Linked DNA regions of Homo sapiens. The protein of the gene in region 4 purifies or fractionates together with the protein of the main gene of each other region. This does not show direct contact. Each region holds a gene or a part of one and is shown on either strand. Other genes may lie near its edges. The genes, in order: BTBD9, TNPO3, HSD17B6, ATP2B2, GOLGA5, PIGO and PIGN.

Region 1 (3,500 bases), on a different chromosome or scaffold from region 4:
GAACTTCAGAAGAAGTGGCTTGGTATGGTTGAGGGAGATTTCATGGAGGTTATGAAGCTTGAGTTGAGCCTTGACATTTGATTTGAATAGTATAAGAGTTGGGTGAATTTCAGATGGGAAGAATCATGAGGTTAATAGACAGAGGTTAGAGCATTTGAAGAGACCATAAATAGAAGAGCTTGATTAGAGTAGAAGGCTTTTATTGATTAATAGCAAAGAAACTATGTGAAGGTCAGCTTAGGCCAGTTTATGGAAGTCTTGGAAACTAGATTGGAATCTCCCTTACATGCAGTGAGGAACCAATTTGAGAGAGGGAGAGTGGCATGCATGCAGTGGTGGTTTTGAAAGACTGATCCATAGTGCTGTATTTGAGTATTTAGAATAGGGGAAAACTGATTCAGAGAGACCAGTGAGGAGAGTATTTAATCTGTGCACAATTGATACTACCTCAAACCAGATTGGTGGCAGGGAAAATGGAAAATAATGGATGATTAGAACGGATACAATGGAAAAAAATAGATCTTGATGATTCAAGGGATATAAATGTGGGGATTAAGTTTAGGAGAAAGTTACCATTTGTTATCAAATCTAAGAAGCCAGAAATTCTCAGGCACCATTATTTTATGTTCCACTAAGAAAAGAAACAATACTGCCAATTAACTGTGACACACTATGATGTCTACACTGCGATTTCAGAAATTTAAAAATTTGAACACTAGGTATGTCTGTAATGAAATACAGTACAGTACTTCTTTGAAGAAGATGCTGAGCTTGATTTTTAGATTGAGTTTGAGGGTTTTGGGGTTGCAAGTTGTAACTTCTGTCCCAAACTAGTCATTTCCCTGAGTTATCTCTTCTTGACTATGCCTTTAAACATTCTCTTGAAATACTGATTGATCTTAAATAGATGTTCTTAACAGAATTCTCTCCTGACTTATCAGGTCTAGATTTCTTTTCACTGGGCATAGGAGAAGAAACATAGGTTTTGGCCCAGACAAATTTGACTTCAAATCCTGAATTAGTCACTTACTAGTTGTACAATCTGGTATTAAATTATTTAAGGAATTTTACCTTTTATATCTCCTAGCATTGTTATGAGACTTAATTAAAATAATGTGTGCAAGCTCAATATAGGAAACCATTGTTACCATATATCATTATGATGTGTTTTTTTTTCTGTGTATATCTGTGTGAGAATTACCACCTTGATCACATTGTTTTAAACATTTTTGTTTACTTGTCTTTGATCCTTGAAGGCAGAGATGATCTTTATAGGCCTTATTGATCTCTATATCCTCAACATTTAACACACCAAATAGCATATAATGGGTAATTGGTGAATGCTTGGTGAATGCTTAGTGAATGAATGCAGGGAGAAATGTCTAATAGGAAATAGGAACACATTACTCTTTAGGACCAGTCAAAGCTGGTGATAAAAGAGTTGAAACCTGAGCTGCTAGAGTATAGAAAAAGAAGTAAAAAACAAAGTCTGAAACTTGGAGAAAACCTATTGCCAGGGGACTTAAGGTAGAGAAGGAAGAAGGAAGACATTTGGGATAGAATAGAGTTACAGAGGACAACCGGAGGAGAGAGCTTTCCTATGGATCCAATGGTCAATGGTAGCTCACGATAGGGAGGTCAAGAAAATTGAGAGACAACTTTTGGATATAAATTGTGATTAGTTGATAAGTAATCTGGACAGAAGATTGGCTGCCAGGGAATTAGGCCATGGATGTTTGAAAAGATAATAGAGATAACATATTGTCTGTCTGATTTGTGAATTGGATTGTAAGGTAGTAAAAAAATAGTATGGTAGCTAGAGAGATCAGGTTGGGAGAGGTCCAGGAAGAAATCAGAGGTGCTAGAGAATGGTACTAGTTAAGTGTCAGCCTTGGATAAAGTGTGGGAGGATGGCAAGTGAAGAGGTAGTAAGATGAGTAATTAGTGTTAGGCTTTTCAAATTATCATGTCGGATCCTGTCTTATATAAGTTCCTTTCCCTCTCTTGCCCTGCATTTGATTTGAAGTGCTGAAAAGGCCCTAGAACTGGATTCATTATAGGGATAATCTTGGGACATGTTTGCAGGAGTGAGGATTTGTTTTGGACATTTCACATGGTTACTGGTAGTTTGGAATTGATCAACTGGTCAGTATAAGGGTAGTACCTGGGTTACAAGAAACTCAGGAGATGAGTTGCGAAAGGGAGAACTTAGCCAGTTGAGTCACTCAGTTCTGGAATGACACATACACAGATTGTTGTTCATCAATGTTAAATTCTTCACTTTGAAGTGAATGAGGGGGAGCTCAAGGAAGAGACTATGTAAATGTTTGGGAATCCTTTATCTAACTTCTGAACTTGAGTAATGATTAAGTAAGTCTGTTTTTCCTGACTTTTAAAGCATGTGAATAATAAAATCAATAATATAAATACAAGGAAGCATTACACTTCCCTGTCAGACCCTGAAAAGATAGGTTTTTTTAATTCAATCATCTTTATTAATCTATCAGTCTTACATTTTATACATGACATCTAGTCGTATTCTAAAAGGGCTCTACTTTTAGTACATCATGTTAATAGCAGAAAGCCAAGTAAGATGACTAAACCTTACACTAGCATTTTAATATCCTCTGGACAAGGGAAGCTAGGTCAATCACTTTACATACATGTAAGAGTAGTGTTCCAAAATAACTAAGAAGTTGCTATATTTTTAAGCAGGGAGGAAAGAACTTTGATTTTGGTCTTTGTGTTCCAGCAAATTATACTTTCAATTAACAGCAACAAAGATATAACAAATGCTCTGCTTTTAAAATTTGTGAACTTCATTACAGATTAAAACAGTACTGGAGTCTTTTGGGAGGCCAATAGCTAGCAGCTACATTAATTGGTGTAGATAAGCCTCGTTATCGATAACCAGGTCCAGGTTTGGTATAGCCCTGACCAAAGGGAGGACATATAAGGATTAGGCCCAGTTGGAGGAGGGGTCATGCTACTTACAGGAAGTGAAGTAAAACTTGATCTTGGTCTATAGGCCCCAGGTTGGCTTGGAGCCATTCTAGGTTGAGAGGCAGGGGCCACAGTATAATTAGTAGGCTGAAAAGTTTGGGTAGTATAAATTTGTGCAGGATAATTGCTTGCCTGGTACTGTGTGGCAGCTGAGCAGGCAGTTGTTGAGGCTGACCAAAAAGGCAGGAGCTGGTGCCTGGGTAGTTGGTTGCTGGCCATATCCTTGGAACTGCTGAGGTTGTTTGGAGTCCAGTCTGCTGACTCTGGCTTTTTGAATACTGAATACCATACTGTTGAGGCTGCTGAGGTAGAGCCCGCAGACACGGTGCACCATAGCTAGCCTGTTGCTGGTACTATTGATACAGCTGACTTTCAGTCTGACCTGCTTGTATCTTAGCTTCTGTATATGGTGGTTGCTGTGGCTGAACTCCTGGTGGGTGAGCTGCTACTGAGGAGGAGGCGGCAATGCTGTCAGATGTTCCTGAACAGTCTTCTGC
Region 2 (3,500 bases), on a different chromosome or scaffold from region 4:
AGCTGGGACTACAGGTGTGTGCCACCACACCTGGCTAATTTTTTGTATTTTTTTTTTTTTTTTTTTTTTTTTGAGAGGGAGTCTCGCTCTGTCGCCGGGGCTGGAGTGCAGTGGCGCCATCTTGGCTCACTGCAAGCTCTGCATCCTGGGTTCATGCCATTCTCCTGCCTCAGCCTCCTCAGTAGCTGGGACTACAGGAACCTGACACCACGCCCGGCTAATTTTTTGTATTTTTAGTAGAGATGGGGTTTCACCGTGGTCTCGATCTCCTGACCTCGTGATCTACCGGCCTCAGCCTCCCAAAGTGCTGGGATTACAGGCGTGAGCCACCGCGCCCGGCCAATTTTTTGTATTTTTAGTAGAGACAGGGTTTCACTGTGTTAGCCAGGATGGTCTCGATCTCCTGACCTTGTGATCTGCCCACCTTGGCCTCCCAAAGTGCTGGGATTACAGGTGTGAGCCACCATGCCCAGCTCGAACACTGACTTTTTATAACTTGGTAATATAATGAGAATCTTTGAACCTACTATTCAATCTAAGAATACCTAATAAATAATTTGCATCTTTGTGCTCTCCCAAACCTGCTTATATACCTTTTTGTCCCACTGGAGATTTTAAATATCCTTTTAAAAAAATTATTCAAGGAAGACTAATACGCCCTTACTAAGTGTATTCAACCTCTCAACTGTACTCTCTTCACTAGAAACCCGGGAGGATTCCCTTCTTGGACCTTTTGGTCTGCTCTGATTTGCATCAGTTGTTCTTTAGATCTACTCCCTGTCATCTTGGGACTTGTCTTTACTGTGCTTTCTGGATTAGGTTAGCTGTTTCTCAAACCCCCTCAAATAACTTCTTCAGAAAAGATATAATGGAAAGTAAACTTGGAATTTTTGCATGCCTGAGAACTATTTTTATTTTGCTTTCGATCTTGATTGATGGCTCAGCTAGGTATTAAGTTGTAGGCTGAATATTATTTTCCTTCAAAATTTCAAAGGCCTTGCTCTCCTTTACTAGCATGCATCATTGTTAATGAAAAGTCAGAGAACTCTGAATTCTGCTCCTTACTATTACCTCCTCCTCTCTTCCCCTGAAATTTTACAGACCTTTGTTTAACTCTGGTATTCTGAAATTTCACAATGATGTGTTTAGGTATGTGTCTTTGATACTTGTTGAGCCCTTTCATTTTAGGTAGTACTTGAGTATCAGAAAAAGGATGGAAAAGATTTTTCACACACTAGAATAGGGTAGGGAACACATGGCTTTCCATTTGGAGGGGCTGGTGTGAACAAGAACATGGAGATTAGAAATGATACGACCATGACTTCGGGACAGAAAGGCTGATTTGCTTGACATATAAGGAAATAGAAATAAGATTGGGAAGATTGATGGATGTTGTCTCATGGAAGGCTATGACTTGACTGTTACACATTTAAAGTACATGTTCAGAAAGAGGCTATAATTGAAAGAAAGAAAGAGGCTCTAATTGTTTTCCTATTACATTTATCCATCACTATCTTCAAAGGATTGGTTCCAGGACCACCCACTACCCCTGCCCCTCTGTGCACAGTTTCCAAGAGATGCAGATGCCCAAGTCCCTTATATAAAATGGTGCAGTATTTGCATATAACCTATCCACATCTTCCCATATACTCTAAATCACCTGTAAATTACTTATAATACCTAATACAATGTAAATGCTATGTAAATAGTTGCTATAGGGTAATTTTTAAATTTGTGTTTTTCATTGTATTATTATTTACTTATATTTTGAATATTTTCTATCGATGGTTGATTGAACCCTAGGGTGTGCAGGGCCAACTGTAGATCACTCCTTAGTGATCATACTTCTTGCTTCCCTATTCCTGCTACCTCCCCAGCAACAGGATAAGACCTCGTCTAACCTACATGAAGCTGCTTCGGACTGTGTATGCTCAGCTCTCTATGCCATTGAGAATGTGGAGACTAACTTGCCATTAGCCATGCAACTTTTTCAGGGAGTGCTGACATTGGAGACTGCCTATCATATGGCCGTGGCACGTGAAGATTTAGACAAGTGAGTAATTGTTTAAGTCTGGAGCCCTGGGTTTACCTACAGTCTGGTCATTCTTTTAAGTCACTTTTTATTATTCGTCTGTCATTTGTGATTCTCAGTGATTCTGTAAAGTACAGATAGTGCTTCCTAAAGATGCTCTACTATGCTCTTCTGAACCTAGAGTGGCAAATTGGGTGCAGGGTTTGTAGAATTACCATAGAAAGGTAAGGCTTTAAAAGTTGGAGACAAATTTTAAAATATCAAGTGTGATTTGATGGGAGTTTTTATTCAAATGTTTTAATAATTGAGAATTTGAACTGACAAGTCACTTGCGTAGGAGTGTACGATCTAGGTAAAGGTGTCTGTCATGGGGATTGTGATACAGCATAGTAAATAATCACTAGATGTCCCTTAGACTGAGGAACCTTTTATTTATTTGATTAACTGTGCCTGTATATACTTATAATATCCAGATTTCTGACTCATTGTTCTCATTCCCCTGTCTTCTACAGAGTTCTGAATTACTGCCGTATTTTCACTGAACTATGTGAAACTTTTCTTGAAAAAATTGTTTGTACTCCAGGCCAAGGTCTTGGGGACCTTCGAACTCTGGAGCTGCTGCTTATCTGTGCAGGCCATCCTCAATATGAGGTAGTGTTTATGCTATTCAAAGGCCATTATTCTCCAAGTTGTGTGCTGCATATTATCTATATTTCATTACCTCGTGCCCAAATTTTTATTGTTGAGAAATTACAGTCTTGTTTTTAATTAATGTGATTTCATCTGTTTTGGAATTTTTTAAAAAAATTATATTTGGGTTTCTGCATTGTGTCCATTTCTGTTTTCTTACCTGGTTGGCTGGGCTGTTGTAGGCCCCTCAAGGAACTCGTTAGAAAGCAAGCCTTTCCAATGAACCCCTTGTCTAGCTTGACTTATTCTCTAGAGTGTTACAGCTAAAAAACACCAAATTCTAACTATACCTCCACAAGTCTTAACACCCCCAATTTTTCTCCAAATGATGGATGAGAATGACAAAGGGATTGAAAGGACTTAAGGGTCTCTGTCATTCAGAATCCTTGACATCCTACTTACCGAGGTTTGCTAGATTTTTTAAAATCTCATTTATTTGAGAAGTTTTACCTCTTTATAGTATAAGAAATGAGAAAGGGTCGGGGTTGGTGGCTCACACCTGTAATCCCAGCATTTTGGGAGGCCGAGGTGGGCAGATCACCTGAGGTCAGGAGTTTGAGACCAGCCTGGCCAACATGGTGAAACCCTGTCTCCACTAAAAATATAAAAATTAGTCAGGCGTGGTGGCTCACACCTGTAATATCCCAGCTACTTGGGAGGCTGAGGCAGGAGAATTGCTTGAACCTGGGAGGCAGAGGTTGTAGTGAGCTGAGATCGGGCCACTGCACTCCAGCCTGGGAGACGAGCGAAACTCCGTCTCAAAAAAAAAAAAAAAAGT
Region 3 (3,500 bases), on a different chromosome or scaffold from region 4:
TTGGGCCAAGATCTAGTCAAAATGTAGTCTGCCAGTGATGTAGGTAAATAAGATAGAGGGATGAAGAAAAATTTAGCATCCCAGCCAGCTGAATATCGAGTTCGCGGATGCACCGATGTCAGAGCATGTTCCATGCAGTCAGTGACCAGGTTCAGGTTTGTGCTACAATTCAACAGCCCTTCCTTCATGATATTGTAAACTGTATACAAAAAAAGAAATGGTGGTCAACAATCTTATTCCTTATATTTTTAAGATCATGCAGTCACAGAAGTCTCACCACATCTAATTTCTACAAAATAGAATGATCTAGAATGTGCATCCCAATATGATAGCCACTAGCCACATGTAGCTATTGAGCACTTAAACAATAGCTAATGCACTGGAATAAAAACTAAATTTTGGATTTTATTTAATTTTAATTTTAAAACTCAATCATTTTTCTTTTTTTGTTTGGTTGTTTTTTGGGGTTTCTTTTGAGACAGGGTCTTGCTCTGTCACCCAGGTTGGAGTGTAGTGGTACAATCTCAGCTCACTGCAACCTCTGCCTCCCAGGCTCGTGATCCTCCCTCCTCAGCTTCCCACATAGCTGGGACTACAGGTTCGCATCCCCATGCCCAGCTAATTTTGTTTATTTTTTGTAGACACAAGGTCTCACTATGTTGCCCAGGCTGGTCTTGAATTCCTGGGCTCAAGCGATCCTCCCACATCAGCCTCCCAAAGTGCTGGAATTATAGGTGTGAGGCACCACGCCTGGCCTCAAAACTCAATTCTGATGGCTGGGTGCAGTGGCTCATGCCTGTAATCCCAGCACTTTGGGAGGCCGAGGTGGGTGGATAATTTGGGGTCAGGAGTTCGAGACCGGCATGGCCAACATGGTGAAACCCCATGTCTACTAAAAATACAAAAATTAGCCAGGCTTGGTGGTGCATGCCTGTAGTCCCAGTTACTCAGGAAGCTGAGACAAGAGAATTGCTTGAACCCGGGAGGCAGAGGTTGCAGTGAGCCAAGATCACGCCACTGCACTCCAGCCTGGGTGACAGAGCGAGACTCTGTCTCAAAAAAAAAAAAAAAAAACACACAACTTAATTCTGTTACTAGAGGATTTTTAAATAGGTTTAGAACAACACAGATATGGGAATATACTTTTTCAACTGGAAATTTTTTTAACATTATTGAGATATTCATATATCATAAAATTCAGCCATTTAAAGTGTACAAATCAATAATTTTTAGTATATTCAGAGTTGTGCAATCATCATCACAATCTACATTTAGAACATTTTCATCATCCCAAAAAGAAACCCTGTACCTATTAGAAGTCATTCCCATTTTTCACCGCTGCTGCTACCTCCTCCTCCAGGTCTTCAGAATAATATTCTTATAGGAAATTGACAAATCCCACTCCCACAAAGCTCCTATCACCTGAACAAGAGAAATATAGCCTCAGGGAATGGCCCATAGGGCTCTGCAAAGACTTATCCTCACTGACTTACCTCTTCCCACCTACATGCTTTCTCCTGTCACATTAAGACACATAGTTTGTGGACAAGCCCTTTGTTATCAAAAGGTAAACAATGATGAAGACTGCACTTTAGTTGAGCAGACATCTCACACCAGCCCTGCAATGCTACCAAGGGGCACACCCTCTCAAGGGTCCATGCCTCTAAGTATGTAATACCTCCTAGTGCTCAGGTGCCCTGGCCCACAGAGGACAAGGCAGGGAAGAGCCTGGCCCCAGGCCGCCTATATGTCCCCCTCCTCAACCATGATAGTCATCAGACCAAGCCAACCATGAGACCACTGGGACCTTCCTGACTTCCTTCTGTTCTGGGAATGCTTTATTTAAGGAGCTTTGTCCTGAGAGGATCTGCCAATCATTGTCCACCAACCCTCTTTTCCCCTTCTCATGCAAGGGTACTGATATGGTTTGGCTTTGTGTCCCCACCCAACTCATCTTGAATTATAGTCCCATAATCTCCACATGTCGTGGGAGGGACCTGGTGGGAGGTACTGAATCATGGGGGTGGTTCCCATATGCTGTTCTTTTAGTAGTGAGTTCTCACAAGATCTGATGGTTTCATAAGGGGCTTTCCTCTGCTTGCACTCATTCCCTCTCCTGCCATCCTGTGAAGAGGTGCCTTCTGCCATGATTATAAGTTTCCTGAGGACTCCCCAGCCATGCAGAACTGTGAGTCAATTAAACCTCTTTTCTTTATAAATTACCCAGTCTCAGTTATTTCTTCATAGCAGCATGAGAATGGACTAATACAGGGTACCCATTATCCCTATCAAAAGAAAAAAGCTTACGGGCATCAAAATACTGCTGTCCATAGGTCTCCTTAATATGCTTGGGGGCTTCTTTCCAACTTTGCTTCATTCGCTCTAAGGACTGTGTCATGTTTGTCATTCCCGTTCTGAAGTAGCCAGGTTCAACTATGCTGATTTTCACCCCAAAATGTTGAATCTCACGCCTGAAATAAAACCCCACAAGTTATGATTAAAGACCACCACCATTTCAATGCTTTCAGGAAGGAAAAGCAAAACAAAAAAGATTATAAAATACCTTTACTGAATATTTTAAAGAATAAAGAAATCTCCCTCTCCCTCTCCCTCTCCCTCGTCTCCCTCTCCCCACGGTCTCCCTCTCCCTCTCTTTCCATGGTCTCCCTCTGATGCCGAGCGGAAGCTGGACTGTACTGCTGCCATCTCGGCTCACTGCAACCTCCCTGCCTGATTCTCCTGCCTCAGCCTGCCAAGTGCCTGCGATTGCAGGCATGCACCACCATGCCTGACTGGTTTTCGTATTTTTTTGGTGGAGACGGGGTTTCACTGTGTTGGCCGGGCCGGTCTCCAGCTCCTAACCGCGAGTGATCCGCCAGCCTTGGCCTCCCAAGGTGCCGGGATTGCAGACGGAGTCTCGTTCACTCAGTGCTCAATGGTGCCCAGGCTGGAGTGCAGTGGCGTGATCTCGGCTCGCTACAACCTCCACCTCCCAGCCGCCTGCCTTGGCCTCCCAAAATGCCGAGATTGCAGCCTCTGCCCGGCTGCCACCCCGTCTGGGAAGTGAGGAGCGTCTCTGCCTGGCCACCCATCATCTGGGATGTGAGGAGCCCCTCTGCCTGGCTGCCCAGTCTGGAAAGTGAGGAGCGTCTCTGCCCAGCCGCCATCCCATCTAGGAAGTGAGGAGCACCTCTTCCCGGCCGCCATCCCATCTAGGAAGTGAGGAGCGTCTCTGCCCGGCTGCCCATCGTCTGAGATGTGGGGAGCGCCTCTGCCCCGCCACCCCGTCTGGGATGTGAGGAGCGCCTCGGCCCAGCCGCGACCCCGTCTGGGAGGTGAGGAGCATCTCTGCCCGGCTGCCCCGTCTGAGAAGTGAGGAGACCCTCCGCCTGGCAACCGCCCCGTTTGAGAAGTGAGGAGCCCCTCCACCTGGCTGCCACCCCGTCTGGGAAGTGAGGAGCGTCTCCGCCCGGCAGCCACCCCCTCCGGGAGGGAGGTGG
Region 4 (3,500 bases):
GGGAAGCTGATGTCTCCACTCAGCTCAGAATTTCCTTCCCCTGAGGTCATGGGGCAGACTCAGGCCTCTGAGAGGGCAGAGAAGTGCCTAGAAACAGCCCTGGGTCCCAGTGCCAGGTCTCGCTTAATTTTATTGCTACTCCCTGAGTGCAGGAGTGGCCCAGGCCACATACTCTTCACCACACTGACCCCATTTTGTAGATAAGGAAACTGAGGCTCTGGAAGCTCTAAATACTGTGGTGGTGAGGCTGAGTCTTGGTCCTGGAAGTTATTCATGGCCTAGCCCCCAGGCAGGGCACCCGCAGTCGTATACCACCTTCTACCTGGGGCTGCCTCCGCCTCCCAGCAGGAGTTGTTTCTGGAGCTGATTCATCTCTGAGCTCAGCAAGGAGCCCGACAAACAGCCTGGTCCACACCAAATACTTAGCTAATACTGGTTTTATTGATTTGCATTCTATGCCCTCTTCAGGATGCTCTGAGCTCAGAAATCTGAAATTGGCTGGGGGTGGGATGGGGAGAAGGGCTTCATTTTAATCTGAAGTGAGTCATGTAAGTTGATAAATTTAGAAGTGGCCTAAAGAGCTCTTAATCTGCTGCCTTCAGATAGTTGCTAGGAAGAGACTGGCACCCAGCAACCTTTGCATCCCAAATCCACATAACAGAGTGGACACTGTTGGTGCCCACCCTAGTCCTCCTTACCGGTCTGCAGCTTCCACACCCCAGCTGCTGGGAGCTAGAGCTCCCGGCTGCCCCTTCTTTGCAGGCTTGCCCTGGGAAGAACAGGAGCTCCTGCCCGGGCAATTGCACACAGCATCCCACTCAGAAGGCAGCCGTGGCCAATAACTATCTGATATGGGGTATGAAAGGCCAGCTTTTTTGCTTCAAGGCAGAGCCAAACCTGGGGCGCAGTTCATGCCCCACATCCCCCAAGGGATCAGCTGAGGCCACACGCTTGTTTATCTCTTTCTCTCCCTACCTTGTTTCCTTTCAGCCCCTTTCTCCTGAGCGCTGTCTCATGCTTGCTCCTAGTGAGTCCAACCCAAGATCCACACACATTGCACTCCACACGCAGACACTAGCTCCACCCCTCCAACCCCGCCCCTTCCCCCGTGACCTGGACATCAGCAATGTCCAGGCAGCTTCGAATTTTAGACATTTAAAGTCTCAGGGGGCCCATCTGGCTCCAAAAGGCTTGTTTCAAAGATGGGAAACTGATGCTCAGAAAGAGACTGTGACTTGTCCAAGGTCACTTGAAGTGCTTGTCATGGCTGGCTGCACCCAGGTCTTTGTCCTCCCCCCAACTCCAATCCACTTTGTGGCCCTAGCCTGTCTGGTGGCTGGACCAACGGGCCAGCCACGGCTTTTGCTGTCTCCAGGAGGGAATTTTGCTGTGTCAACTCTGCAGAAGCCACTTGGAGGCCAGGAGAGTGCTGGCTGGTGGGCTTGCAGGATGGTTGGCAGGCTCTGCTGACCTTGGGCAGCTGTGGGCAGGGTGGGCATCCCAGTTAGGCCCCTTCCACTGTTTGTGGTGGTCAGGCAGAAAATTGAGGGAAGACAGAAACGACTTCTAATGAGGGCCCTAATTACCCTGTGGATCCCTGAAGCACTGGTGATGTATCTGCTGGTGGCTTCTTCTAGAAACCCTCCTCTCCATGGCAAGAACTGCTTTCTCCATAAGAGAAAGAGTCCTGAACCAACATGGGCAAAGAGGCAGCATTGGGCTGGTGCCTGGACATTGGGCTGTGGTTCCAGTCTGCTGGGAGCTGGCTGTGTGATCCTGGGCAAACCAGCATGCCTCTTGGCCCTTGGTTTTCTCAGCTATAAAGCAAGTGCAGCCTCAACTGCTATTATTTTATTGAGCCTAGTGTTTATTTTAGTATCATTTATTGAACTAGAAGAGACTCATTAAAGTTCATCAAATAATAATTGCTTACACTTCTGCCAAGGGCTGTCCTAAGCACTTTAATTTTACTTAATCCTCACAACAATCCTATGAATTGGACACTTTTGTTATCCCCATTTTACAGATGGTGGGACTAAGGCACAGAGAAATTAAGAAACTTGTGCTGGGTCACACAGCATGGAAATGGTGGAGCAGGAATTAGAATCCCAGAGTCTATGCTTTAAATTCCTCCTTGTACTACGGTCTTTGCTGTTTGTTTTGCACGGCCATTTATTAAGCACCTACTGCATATGGGGACTCTGCTGGTCACGTAATACACACAAAAGTTTGCCGACTTCTCACAGCTGCTCCGGCAAGCAGGTGTTCTTTTGCTGATTGTTTCAGAGTGGACACAAAGGACCCAGTGAGGGACTCACCGCAACTGAGCTGGGGAGGCAGGTGGCAATCCTGGCTTCTTCCCACCAGCCTGGTGGCTCTGTTCTGAGCCCCTTATAAAACTGATCTTATTTATCATATTTTCTTGACTCTAACCTGTATCACTACTTTACGTATATTTAAGAAATAAAAGGCATGGCTGGTTCCACTGTGGTGTAACACCAGTTGTCAGGCACAACCTGGCTTCAGAAATGTCAAAATGTATATCTTGGAATCCGCACAGTTCAGTCTCCGACACAACGGCCTGATGAGGCAGGCAGTGTTGTCATCTCCATTTGACAGTGGAGGGAACGGAGGCTTGGAGATTAAGGACATGCAGCTGGTCAGCGGCCAGGCATTGGATGTGACCCCAAGCAGCCTGGGCCCAGATGTTGTCCTCAACTACTGCGCTACATCAACGCTAAGTCAGGCCCACGTAGGATGGCGTGCCCTGCCCATGGGCACAGATCAAAAAACTTCAGAAGGATCAGTGAGCTGGAGGCCAGCACCCTCTGCTCCGGATGAGCCTGGGGGCCTCACTCAGCGTGGATGCCTCAGGCATGCAGGAGGCACCCCAAATGGCTGCCACAGCATTCCCCGCCCACTGCCTCCACAGCTCCCTTGGGCCTGCAAGGCAGGTGTTTGACAGAGCTGGGCTAGAATGAGTTCATCCAGATGACGCCCCCATGGCTCCCACAAAATGGTCCCGGGGCAGCCAGACATGGCCCGGTAGAGTAGCCCAGCCGGCACAGGAAAGGCACCACTTTATAGGAAACTGCCTTCAGAGGCAGCACAGAAGCTTGCAGAGACCTGCTTTCTTCCTTCAAAGCTACATGGTGCTTGGACCCCAAACGGTGTCATCCATTCACTGCTTCTCCCATAGGCTCCACCAATCCCATATGCTCCACTATGGCACGACTGCTCCCAATTTTCCCAAATCAAATCCACCCTCCTTGGACTAGGATGTGCCCCTTCTGGGGACATCTTTAAGATGCCCACAAGCAGGGCAGAAGCTCAACATATTTCGAATGCCTGGCATGATGAGGGTTCCATTTGAGACATTACCTACCCATCATCTCGTGGCACAATCTTGTGAGGCAGGTTTTTCCCACTCCACTTTGCATATCAGGATGTCAAGCTCAGAGAAGCAAAGCTACCTGCCCAAGGTCACACAGTAGTAAACA
Region 5 (3,500 bases), on a different chromosome or scaffold from region 4:
AATTTGTGGGGAGTGCTGTAAGGGATTTATAAGAAAGAAAGGCAGGTGGAGCCTAGATAAGAGAAGGGGATTGAGTTTCCAAACAGAGGAAACGTGGCCGGCATAGCGGAGGCTGGAGGAGAGTAGAGGGAGATGGAGACAGATAAGACCAGATGGAAGATGGAATGAAGGAAGTCGTTAAGTATCAACTTTCAGCCAGAGTCTCCTAGGACAACTATCATTTACTGTCCCTAAATACCATGTGCAACGGGTGCTGTCATCTTCACTAACAGATGAGGAAACAGATTCAGAGAAGTATAGCAATTAACCTGAAGTCAAATAGCTTGAAAATTGCAGAGCAGAGATGAAAACCTCAGAGTGTGATCTTTGCACTGCACCGTAACTGTTGAATGACGGAGGCTTTTGAATCCCTGTTGAAAAGTGTGGATTGTGTCCTCTAAACCCATGCTTTGAAATACTTTGACCATGACGCCTCAGTGAGAAAAACAGTTTACATCGTGTCTCAGTACTGACATGCACTTACATGTACCAAACTGAAACAGGAGTTTCACAAAATTATACTTTTATATATACTATATGTTACATAAATATCAGAATATGTCCCATTCTATTACATTTTCTAAAATGCTGATTTTGACCCACCAAATTGATTTCATGACCCCAGTTTTTGAAAATCACTTTTGTAGACATTGAGTCAGTATAGAGTTTTGAGAAATCAATGAATGCCACAATTTACCTATGAAAATGTAGTAGTGTGATTTCTGTATTGTATGACTTTCATTTTATGTAAGAATTTTGTGAACACTTTCTCTTTCAGCTTACCAATAAAACTTTAAGCAATAGCAGTCAGTCTGAGTTAGAAAATCGACTCCATCAGCTAACAGAGACTCTCATCCAGAAACAGACCATGCTGGAGAGTCTCAGCACAGAAAAGAACTCCCTGGTCTTTCAACTGGAGCGCCTCGAACAGCAGATGAACTCCGCCTCTGGAAGTAGTAGTAATGGGTCTTCGATTAATATGTCTGGAATTGACAATGGTGAAGGTAATCAAAAAAGGAATCTCAAAAGAACATTTCATTCAAACATGCTTTTGAAAAGTTATAGAAGGACTATTTTTATTTGAAAGAAACTTCATCCAGTGAAGGACTCAATTTTCTGATATGAGACCTGGGCCACGTACTGTTTAGTATTGTTAGTGAACCGGATAATGGACTAATTAATATTCCTCACCAGTATTAGACTTGGGGAAAGTAGTCTGAGGATTGATAATTATATTGTAATGTCTGAGACACTTAACAAGATGATGCTGACAAGGCGAGGAATTCAGTAGAGAGGAGCTTTCAGGACACTTGAAACAAGATTTGCTTTAATAATCTTCCAGTAAATAGTTACGGGTATTAGAGCTAATACATAGTTCACATAACCATATCTAAAGAAATCTATAGATTCCCAACATATGTAATTAAAAAATAATGTGTAAGATAGTATAAGCATCAACAGATCAGATTTTTAATCTTGGAACTTCGTAAAGTCTACAAATTGTCATTCAGCAAATTTCTCAGTTCTTTGGCTTTAAATTATTTCTTTTAATAAAAAAAATTGTTTAAGAGACGCTGGGTGCCAGGTATGGGGATGGCACTGTAATTTAAAAAGGGTGATCAGGAAGACCTCGTTGAAAAGTGTCACTTCTTTTTTTTTTTTAATGTATAATTATCATTTTATTTGTAATTGTTAATTACAAGTAAAAATGAAATTATAAATAAGTAAATCATACTCCTTAATGGCATAAATAAAAAGTGCCTCGCTTAAATTAATAAAATTTTCCTGACCATAACTTCTGTGATTTTTTTAAGGGTTTTCAGTTTCTTTTAGGTTTCACCTTTTTTTTTTTATTTTATTTTTTTATTATTATTATACTTTAAGTTTTAGGGTACATGTGCACAATGTGCAGGTTAGTTACATATGTATACATGTGCCATGCTGGTGTGCTGCACCCATTAACTCGTCATTTAGCATTAGGTCTATCTCCTAATACTATCCCTCCTCCCCCCTCCCCCAGCCCCACAACAGTCCCCAGAGTGTGATGTTCCCCTTCCTGTGTCCATGTGTTCTCATTGTTCAATTCCCACCTATGAGTGAGAACATACGGTGAAAAGTGTCACTTCTTTAAAGTCCCAAAGGAGGTAAGATAGTGAACAATGAGGAGGCATAGAAAAAAAGTGTTCCAGGCAGAAAGAAGAGCAGGCACAAAGGCCTTGAGGCAGGCATGTTCCTGGCATATTTCAGGAACAGCAAGGAGGCCAAGGCCTCTGGAGTAGACTGAGTGAAGAAGACACTTGTGTAAGATGAATCCAGAGAGCTTAGAATAGGCCGTTGAGGCCTGTATGGGGACTTTTACTCTGAATGAGGTAGGAAGCCATTGAAGGATCTTGAGAGGGGGGACTGATCTGACTTGCACCTTAATAGGCTGCCTCTGACTGCCATGTCAAGAATAGACTGCACAGGGCTAAAAGTGGAAGCAGGGAGACAGGGCAAGAGGAGGCCGGAGGTGGGTGGGTAGCCATTGCATTAATCCATGTGAGAGATGGTAGTCTAGAACTGAGTGGGATTGTGAAGGTGGACTGAGAATTTATTTTAAAGGTAAGCTGACAGAATATGTTGGCAGATGAGATACGGAGTTTGAGAGAAAGAAGTCAAGAGTTTTGGCCTGAGCAGATGGAAGGATTGGAATTGTGATGTCCTGAGACAGGGAAATGGCAGCTGAGGCAGGTTGACAGCGAGGACAAGAACTCTGAATTGTAGTGTTAGGCAGGCTTTGGGGTGCCCGTTAGATATCTGGATGGAAGCGAATAGGCAGTTGGATGAGTCTGGCAGGGGATGAAGCCTCTGGGCTGGAGTACACATTTGGGAGTCCTCTGCTTCATAGAAAGACCACCCGGCCTCACTCCTCCTCACATAGGAACAAAGGGCCCATTAATATTGACTCTTGTCAACGCTTAGTATTTGTAAATTTCTTAATTTTTGCTAAAATCATTTTCTTATTTAAAACTTTTTTCTTGTTGTGGATATGGATGTTTAAATATTTATGTCATCAAATTTACCTGTCCTTTCTTTATAGTTTCATCTACTTTGGGGTGATGCTTAGAAAGTTGCCCTTGAAAATTCCTTCCACATGTAATACAGTGTATTTCCAATTATAATTGTCTTAGTTAATTTTTATGTCAGTACACTAATTTATTTTCTTATTTAAACAGGCACTCGTCTGCGAAATGTTCCTGTTCTTTTTAATGACACAGAAACTAATCTGGCAGGAATGTACGGAAAAGTTCGCAAAGCTGCTAGTTCAATTGATCAGTTTAGGTAAGCAATGCCAGTAGGGATGAGTGATGGACCATCAGCTGTTTTTACGTTTTTCAGGGTTTCAATCACAGTGACTCCCATCAGGCAGAGTCTATATTTAAAGTGACTTACTCCTTTCAAGATATTTTATACTTATATAC
Region 6 (2,702 bases), on a different chromosome or scaffold from region 4:
TTGGCCCCCAGGGGACTTGTGGAGCGTCTGGAGAATGACACACTGCTGGTAGTGGCTGGGGACCATGGGATGACCACAAATGGAGACCATGGAGGGGACAGTGAGCTGGAGGTCTCAGCTGCTCTCTTTCTGTATAGCCCCACAGCAGTCTTCCCCAGCACCCCACCAGAGGTGAGGCCTGGGATGTTCCTCATCTGTTCTCCCAGTAATCAGCCCATGTTACCATTACAGCATCCTCATGAATACCTCTATTTTAGGCCCCCAAATCCATGATCCTGGGTATCCTCCACTCTCATTTCTTACCTAGGCCCCTATGTCTGCCATCCCAAACATTGACTTCAGCTTTGTGATGAATCTGTTGACCACTGTCATTTTCCTTTAGGAGCCAGAGGTGATTCCTCAAGTTAGCCTTGTGCCCACGCTGGCCCTGCTGCTGGGCCTGCCCATCCCATTTGGGAATATCGGGGAAGTGATGGCTGAGCTATTCTCAGGGGGTGAGGACTCCCAGCCCCACTCCTCTGCTTTAGCCCAAGCCTCAGCTCTCCATCTCAATGCTCAGCAGGTAGGTAAGCGGGCTGGGTTTCCAGGTGACAGAGCTAGGGTGGGCATGAAAGAAGCATAATGAACCACTCTTTTGTCCTTTGACTAGTCTTAGTCCCACCTTCCATACCTATCCCTCTTCCGTTATCCCTCCCTTCCCCGATTCTGGACAGAGTTTGGGTCCTTGACTTCCAGGTACCCCCTTTTGTAATACCTATTCTTGCCTCTGCCCCAATTTATGTCTCTGACCTGTTCCCCTTGGCCTCTGACCTTTTCTCTGCCAGGTGTCCCGATTTCTTCATACCTACTCAGCTGCTACTCAGGACCTTCAAGCTAAGGAGCTTCATCAGCTGCAGAACCTCTTCTCCAAGGCCTCTGCTGACTACCAGTGGCTTCTCCAGAGCCCCAAGGGGGCTGAGGCGACACTGCCGACTGTGATTGCTGAGCTGCAGCAGTTCCTGCGGGGAGCTCGGGCCATGTGCATCGAGTCTTGGGCTCGTTTCTCTCTGGTCCGCATGGCGGGGGGTACTGCTCTCTTGGCTGCTTCCTGCTTTATCTGCCTGCTGGCATCTCAGTGGGCAATATCCCCAGGCTTTCCATTCTGCCCTCTACTCCTGACACCTGTGGCCTGGGGCCTGGTTGGGGCCATAGCGTATGCTGGACTCCTGGGAACTATTGAGCTGAAGCTAGATCTAGTGCTTCTAGGGGCTGTGGCTGCAGTGAGCTCATTCCTCCCTTTTCTGTGGAAAGCCTGGGCTGGCTGGGGGTCCAAGAGGCCCCTGGCAACCCTGTTTCCCATCCCTGGGCCCGTCCTGTTACTCCTGCTGTTTCGCTTGGCTGTGTTCTTCTCTGATAGTTTTGTTGTAGCTGAGGCCAGGGCCACCCCCTTCCTTTTGGGCTCATTCATCCTGCTCCTGGTTGTCCAGCTTCACTGGGAGGGCCAGCTGCTTCCACCTAAGCTACTCACAATGCCCCGCCTTGGCACTTCAGCCACAACAAACCCCCCACGGCACAATGGTGCATATGCCCTGAGGCTTGGAATTGGGTTGCTTTTATGTACAAGGCTAGCTGGGCTTTTTCATCGTTGCCCTGAAGAGACACCTGTTTGCCACTCCTCTCCCTGGCTGAGTCCTCTGGCATCCATGGTGGGTGGTCGAGCCAAGAATTTGTGGTATGGAGCTTGTGTGGCGGCGCTGGTGGCCCTGTTAGCTGCCGTGCGCTTGTGGCTTCGCCGCTATGGTAATCTCAAGAGCCCCGAGCCACCCATGCTCTTTGTGCGCTGGGGACTGCCCCTAATGGCATTGGGTACTGCTGCCTACTGGGCATTGGCGTCGGGGGCAGATGAGGCTCCCCCCCGTCTCCGGGTCCTGGTCTCTGGGGCATCCATGGTGCTGCCTCGGGCTGTAGCAGGGCTGGCTGCTTCAGGGCTCGCGCTGCTGCTCTGGAAGCCTGTGACAGTGCTGGTGAAGGCTGGGGCAGGCGCTCCAAGGACCAGGACTGTCCTCACTCCCTTCTCAGGCCCCCCCACTTCTCAAGCTGACTTGGATTATGTGGTCCCTCAAATCTACCGACACATGCAGGAGGAGTTCCGGGGCCGGTTAGAGAGGACCAAATCTCAGGGTCCCCTGACTGTGGCTGCTTATCAGTTGGGGAGTGTCTACTCAGCTGCTATGGTCACAGCCCTCACCCTGTTGGCCTTCCCACTTCTGCTGTTGCATGCGGAGCGCATCAGCCTTGTGTTCCTGCTTCTGTTTCTGCAGAGCTTCCTTCTCCTACATCTGCTTGCTGCTGGGATACCCGTCACCACCCCTGGTAAATATCTCAGCTCTGATTCACTTAAAGACAATAGTGATGTGAGTTCGGCCCCTCTTGTTTTCAAGGAGGTGTTGCTCCTCATGTTCCTGAGCTTGACAGAGGGTCCCATGCCCCACACAACTAGGAAGGTCTTCTTGGTGTCCTCTCTCTTACCTGCCATAGCCAAGCAAATTGATCCCTCCTGTTGGTTCCCAGGGTTCATGGAGAGGAGAGACAAGGAGTCCTCTAAGACTCCCTGTGGAAATGCTGCATCCTCATGAGCACATTTCTTGATTTTCCAGTGATGGAAGTAGTAAATTGTGAATATATAATGGCACTGAGCTGTATGTGTTTGAGAGAAAGAAAGA
Region 7 (3,500 bases), on a different chromosome or scaffold from region 4:
TAAGTACAGTACACAAAAATCTGTAACAAATTTCTAGAAATAATTAAAGTATTTGGGTGAATTTCTTAGTTGCCAAAGGAAAGAGAGAAATATACTTCATTTCAAAATTAAGAGGATAAAAATATACTGGTAAAATAAAGTCAAGCTTTTCTGGTGGCACTTGTTTCTCCTTTGGATCTTACTAACGGAAGCTCTGTGGGCTCAAACAGTTGATGTTTTGTGTTGTGTGCCATTGTATATTTACAATGTCAGGAATCTTCTAGCTTCTTCTAAGCCTGTTTTTGAAAGGTTTTTTGTTGTTGTTATTTGTTTTGAGAGGGAGTCTCACTCTGTCGCCCAGGCTGGAGTGCAATGGTGCAATCTTGGCTCACTGCAACATCTGCCTCCCAGGTTCAAGCGATTCTCCTGCCTCAGCCTCCTGAGTAGCTGGGATTACAGGCACGTGCCACCACGCCCGGCTAATTTTTGTACCTTTGGTAGAGACGGGGTTTCACCATGTTGACCAGGCTGGTTTCGAACTCCTGACCTCCACCTGCCTCAGCTTCCCAAAGTGCTGGGATTACAGGCGTGAGCCACCGCATCTGGCCCAAAATTTGTTTTATAAAAACGTGATCTAAACTAATGTTTTTAAATACAGTATCTAAACTAATGCTTTTAAATAGAGTATCCACATTTCTTTATACCTCCCCTTTCTGTTTAAGTCCAGTTTTCATTATATAACTCAAGAAGTTAAAGAATATTTCTCGTTAATATTTGGTCCAGTGGTTTTGAAACTGTTTACTTATTATGAATGTATTTCACCAAAACTGCTTTTATTATTAGGTAAGTCAATAGTAAAAGAACTGACACCAGTAGTTATAAATATTTTTCTTTAGAATGTATTGAGAGGCAGATATTTATCTTGAAAAATGTTATTGTTGAGTTTACTATTTTATAACTTATTGCTCTGCTGGCCTTTCACCTATAATAGCACCACTTGTAGTTTTGCTTTCTTCCCCAAATTTTGCAAATCACTGTGGATACAACTTAAATAATGTTGACATCTTTTAGCAAAATAATCTTTTTGCCTGTTTTAATCTCAAATTTGGGGATATAATTTAACTCCTAATTAGGAGTGTAGCCATTTTCCCTCCCCTTAGTTTTTTAAGAATTTTTCAACTAAACAAATTTGAAAGGATTATTTGATGAACATCTGTATACCCTTTACCTAGTATGACAATTTTAACCTTTTTTCATAATTGCGTTCACCCTCTCCTGGCCCCTCTGCCACCTGCACCACAGGGGTACCCATGTATGTCCATCTAGTTATAATTATTTTTTCCTTAACAATTCGAAAGCAAGAAACTTTACCCCAAACACTTCAGCCTATATCTCTTAAATAACCACAATACTATTATCACACCTAATGCAATTTAACATTGATATAATAATATATGTTTTATCTCTGGATAACAAACCATCTCTGTTTTGTGGCTTAAAACAACAATCATGTATTTTGTTTCATGATTCTGTGCAGTGGTTGAATGGTTCTTTGTTTGGTCTTACATCAGCAAATTCATGCTGCTGCATTCAGCTGGTAGATGCTAGGAATGGGCTCACCTGGAATTTGAAAAATTCCTTTCCTTCTTAAGTTTTGACTTAAGTTTTTTGCTTTTGATTCCTTCTGTAATAATCTTATGTTTCTAAAGCTTTATGTGAGAGTATCTAATCATAGTCTGTGTTAACTATTTGTCTTTAATATCTTTTAGGAATATCATAATGCATGAAGGCAGCTGGGGCATATCTCATACACGTGTGCCAACAGAATCTCGGCCAGGTCATGTAGCTCTGATAGCTGGGTTTTATGAAGATGTCAGTGCAGTTGCCAAAGGTATTGTCTATTTGGACAATCTTATGAAATGAAAAATTTGTCAAGTAAATATTAGTCCTTTACCACTTAATCATGTCACAAAGTGAAGGTATGTTTTGAGATATTTTGGACAAATGTTTTAGCATGCTTTGCTGACATGAATACCCACTGGTACTGACTCCAGAATTGAAACTTTAGTATTTCATTATCCTGTGTTATTGAAAGAATTTGGGTTGGATGGAAGCATAATTTTCCTAGATATTACTCTTGAAAGTTCAAAAATAATTTTATATTTCATTAAGAAGTAAATTATCTATTGTTAGTTTTTTTTTAAATAGTGGTATAATATGCATAATATAAAATCTATTAGTTTTGCATTTATTCACTGACTAATGTAATTGTTATTATTTGAAGAATAGTTCTTTAGGGGCTTATTGTACCATGTGTATATAACTATTACTGCTTGCTTGCTTTCTGAAGGATGGAAGGAAAATCCTGTAGAGTTTGATTCTCTTTTTAATGAAAGTAAATACACATGGAGCTGGGGAAGCCCAGATATCCTGCCTATGTTTGCCAAAGGTAAGAGTCACTGATTATGTTTCCTCAGATAGTAAATAGGGAGTAAGTCAATATGGTAGTTTTCTATTTTTATGTATGTAATGTATGTGTTGATTTTTACACATATTTTTACATTTTTAACATTTCTGAAATAGGGATGTTTAATTACAGTATTTTTTTTTCCTTCTTAGTTATACTTGAGATATTGGCACATCATACAGTTAGATAGTATTTTGGATTCAATTAAGTGGTATATAGCACTATCGCTTAACAGCTATATAATCTTGAGCAATTTATATAACCTCTCTGAGCTTCAATTTCCTTTTCATAAAATGTGATAATATTAGTTTCTGTCTCATAGATTTATTTTTATAATTAAATTATGTAATTCATGTGAAATATTTAGCATAGCACTTTTCACATAACTTGATTATAAATGATGATGTTGAGGTGTGGTTCATTATACTTTGGTAAATTATTTTAAAAGTTAGTAGCTACTCATATAAAGATTTAAACATTGGCTGGGCACAGTGGCTCACACCTGTAATCTCAGCATTTTGGGAGGCTGAGGCAGGTGGATCACTTGAGCTCAGGAGTTGGAGACCAGTCTGGGCAACAAGGTGAGACCCACATCTCTACAACAAACAAAAAATTAGCTGAGTGTGGTGGCATGTGCCTGTAGTCCCAACTACTCAGGTGGCTGAGGTGGGAAGAGTGCTTGAGAGCCTGGGATGTTGAGGCTGCAGTGAGCCATGATTATGCCACTGCACTCCAGCCTGGGCAACAGAGCAACACCCTATCTCAAAAAAAATATTTAAGTGTTAAAATATATAGTTATAATTCCTGTTTTAATACATCGAAGATGCCATATATTCTGGCATTTGATATATATGGCATTTAACATATAATTTATTTAAATTGATATTTAATATACTGAATGTAGCATTTAGATTTATTGTTTATATGCATGATTCTGCAAATATTGGGACATCTCTTAATTAGAAAATTCATTTATATTATTTTCTAAAATCAGTTGGATGAATTTCATGTCATTAAATGCTTTTAAGTGGGAGCAGAAAGATTGATCATTTCA

What was found.
Region 1: the proteins of ATP2B2 (region 4) and BTBD9 purify together in Homo sapiens (affinity purification with mass spectrometry; 2 studies listed by BioGRID and IntAct, with this or other methods). This does not show direct contact.
Region 2: the proteins of ATP2B2 (region 4) and TNPO3 purify together in Homo sapiens (affinity purification with mass spectrometry; 2 studies listed by BioGRID and IntAct, with this or other methods). This does not show direct contact.
Region 3: the proteins of ATP2B2 (region 4) and HSD17B6 purify together in Homo sapiens (affinity purification with mass spectrometry; 3 studies listed by BioGRID and IntAct, with this or other methods). This does not show direct contact.
Region 5: the proteins of ATP2B2 (region 4) and GOLGA5 purify together in Homo sapiens (affinity purification with mass spectrometry; 2 studies listed by BioGRID and IntAct, with this or other methods). This does not show direct contact.
Region 6: the proteins of ATP2B2 (region 4) and PIGO purify together in Homo sapiens (affinity purification with mass spectrometry; 2 studies listed by BioGRID and IntAct, with this or other methods). This does not show direct contact.
Region 7: the proteins of ATP2B2 (region 4) and PIGN purify together in Homo sapiens (affinity purification with mass spectrometry; 2 studies listed by BioGRID and IntAct, with this or other methods). This does not show direct contact.

What each region holds. Positions count from the first base shown.
Region 1 is NC_000006.12:38,587,930-38,591,429, reverse strand, and holds part of BTBD9 (BTB/POZ domain-containing protein 9), read left to right. Parts: intron 1-3,500.
Region 2 is NC_000007.14:128,999,612-129,003,111, reverse strand, and holds part of TNPO3 (transportin-3), read left to right. Parts: intron 1-1,877; coding exon 1,878-2,053; intron 2,054-2,544; coding exon 2,545-2,683; intron 2,684-3,500. UniProt on the Homo sapiens protein: Importin, which transports target proteins into the nucleus. Specifically mediates the nuclear import of splicing factor serine/arginine (SR) proteins, such as RBM4, SFRS1 and SFRS2, by recognizing phosphorylated SR domains.
Region 3 is NC_000012.12:56,783,824-56,787,323, reverse strand, and holds part of HSD17B6 (17-beta-hydroxysteroid dehydrogenase type 6 precursor), read right to left. Parts: intron 2,472-3,500; coding exon 2,308-2,471; intron 1,423-2,307; coding exon of another isoform or gene 1,379-1,422; exon of another isoform or gene 1,310-1,378; intron 200-1,309; coding exon 1-199. UniProt on the Homo sapiens protein: NAD-dependent oxidoreductase with broad substrate specificity that shows both oxidative and reductive activity (in vitro). Has 17-beta-hydroxysteroid dehydrogenase activity towards various steroids (in vitro).
Region 4 is NC_000003.12:10,495,587-10,499,086, forward strand, and holds part of ATP2B2 (plasma membrane calcium-transporting ATPase 2), read right to left. Parts: intron 1-3,500. UniProt on the Homo sapiens protein: ATP-driven Ca(2+) ion pump involved in the maintenance of basal intracellular Ca(2+) levels in specialized cells of cerebellar circuit and vestibular and cochlear systems.
Region 5 is NC_000014.9:92,832,305-92,835,804, forward strand, and holds part of GOLGA5 (golgin subfamily A member 5), read left to right. Parts: intron 1-817; coding exon 818-1,043; intron 1,044-3,254; coding exon 3,255-3,360; intron 3,361-3,500. UniProt on the Homo sapiens protein: Involved in maintaining Golgi structure. Stimulates the formation of Golgi stacks and ribbons. Involved in intra-Golgi retrograde transport.
Region 6 is NC_000009.12:35,090,890-35,093,591, reverse strand, and holds part of PIGO (GPI ethanolamine phosphate transferase 3, catalytic subunit), read left to right. Parts: intron 1-11; coding exon 12-171; intron 172-382; coding exon 383-562; intron 563-824; coding exon 825-2,352; intron 2,353-2,702.
Region 7 is NC_000018.10:62,156,057-62,159,556, reverse strand, and holds part of PIGN (GPI ethanolamine phosphate transferase 1), read left to right. Parts: intron 1-1,748; coding exon 1,749-1,870; intron 1,871-2,329; coding exon 2,330-2,428; intron 2,429-3,500.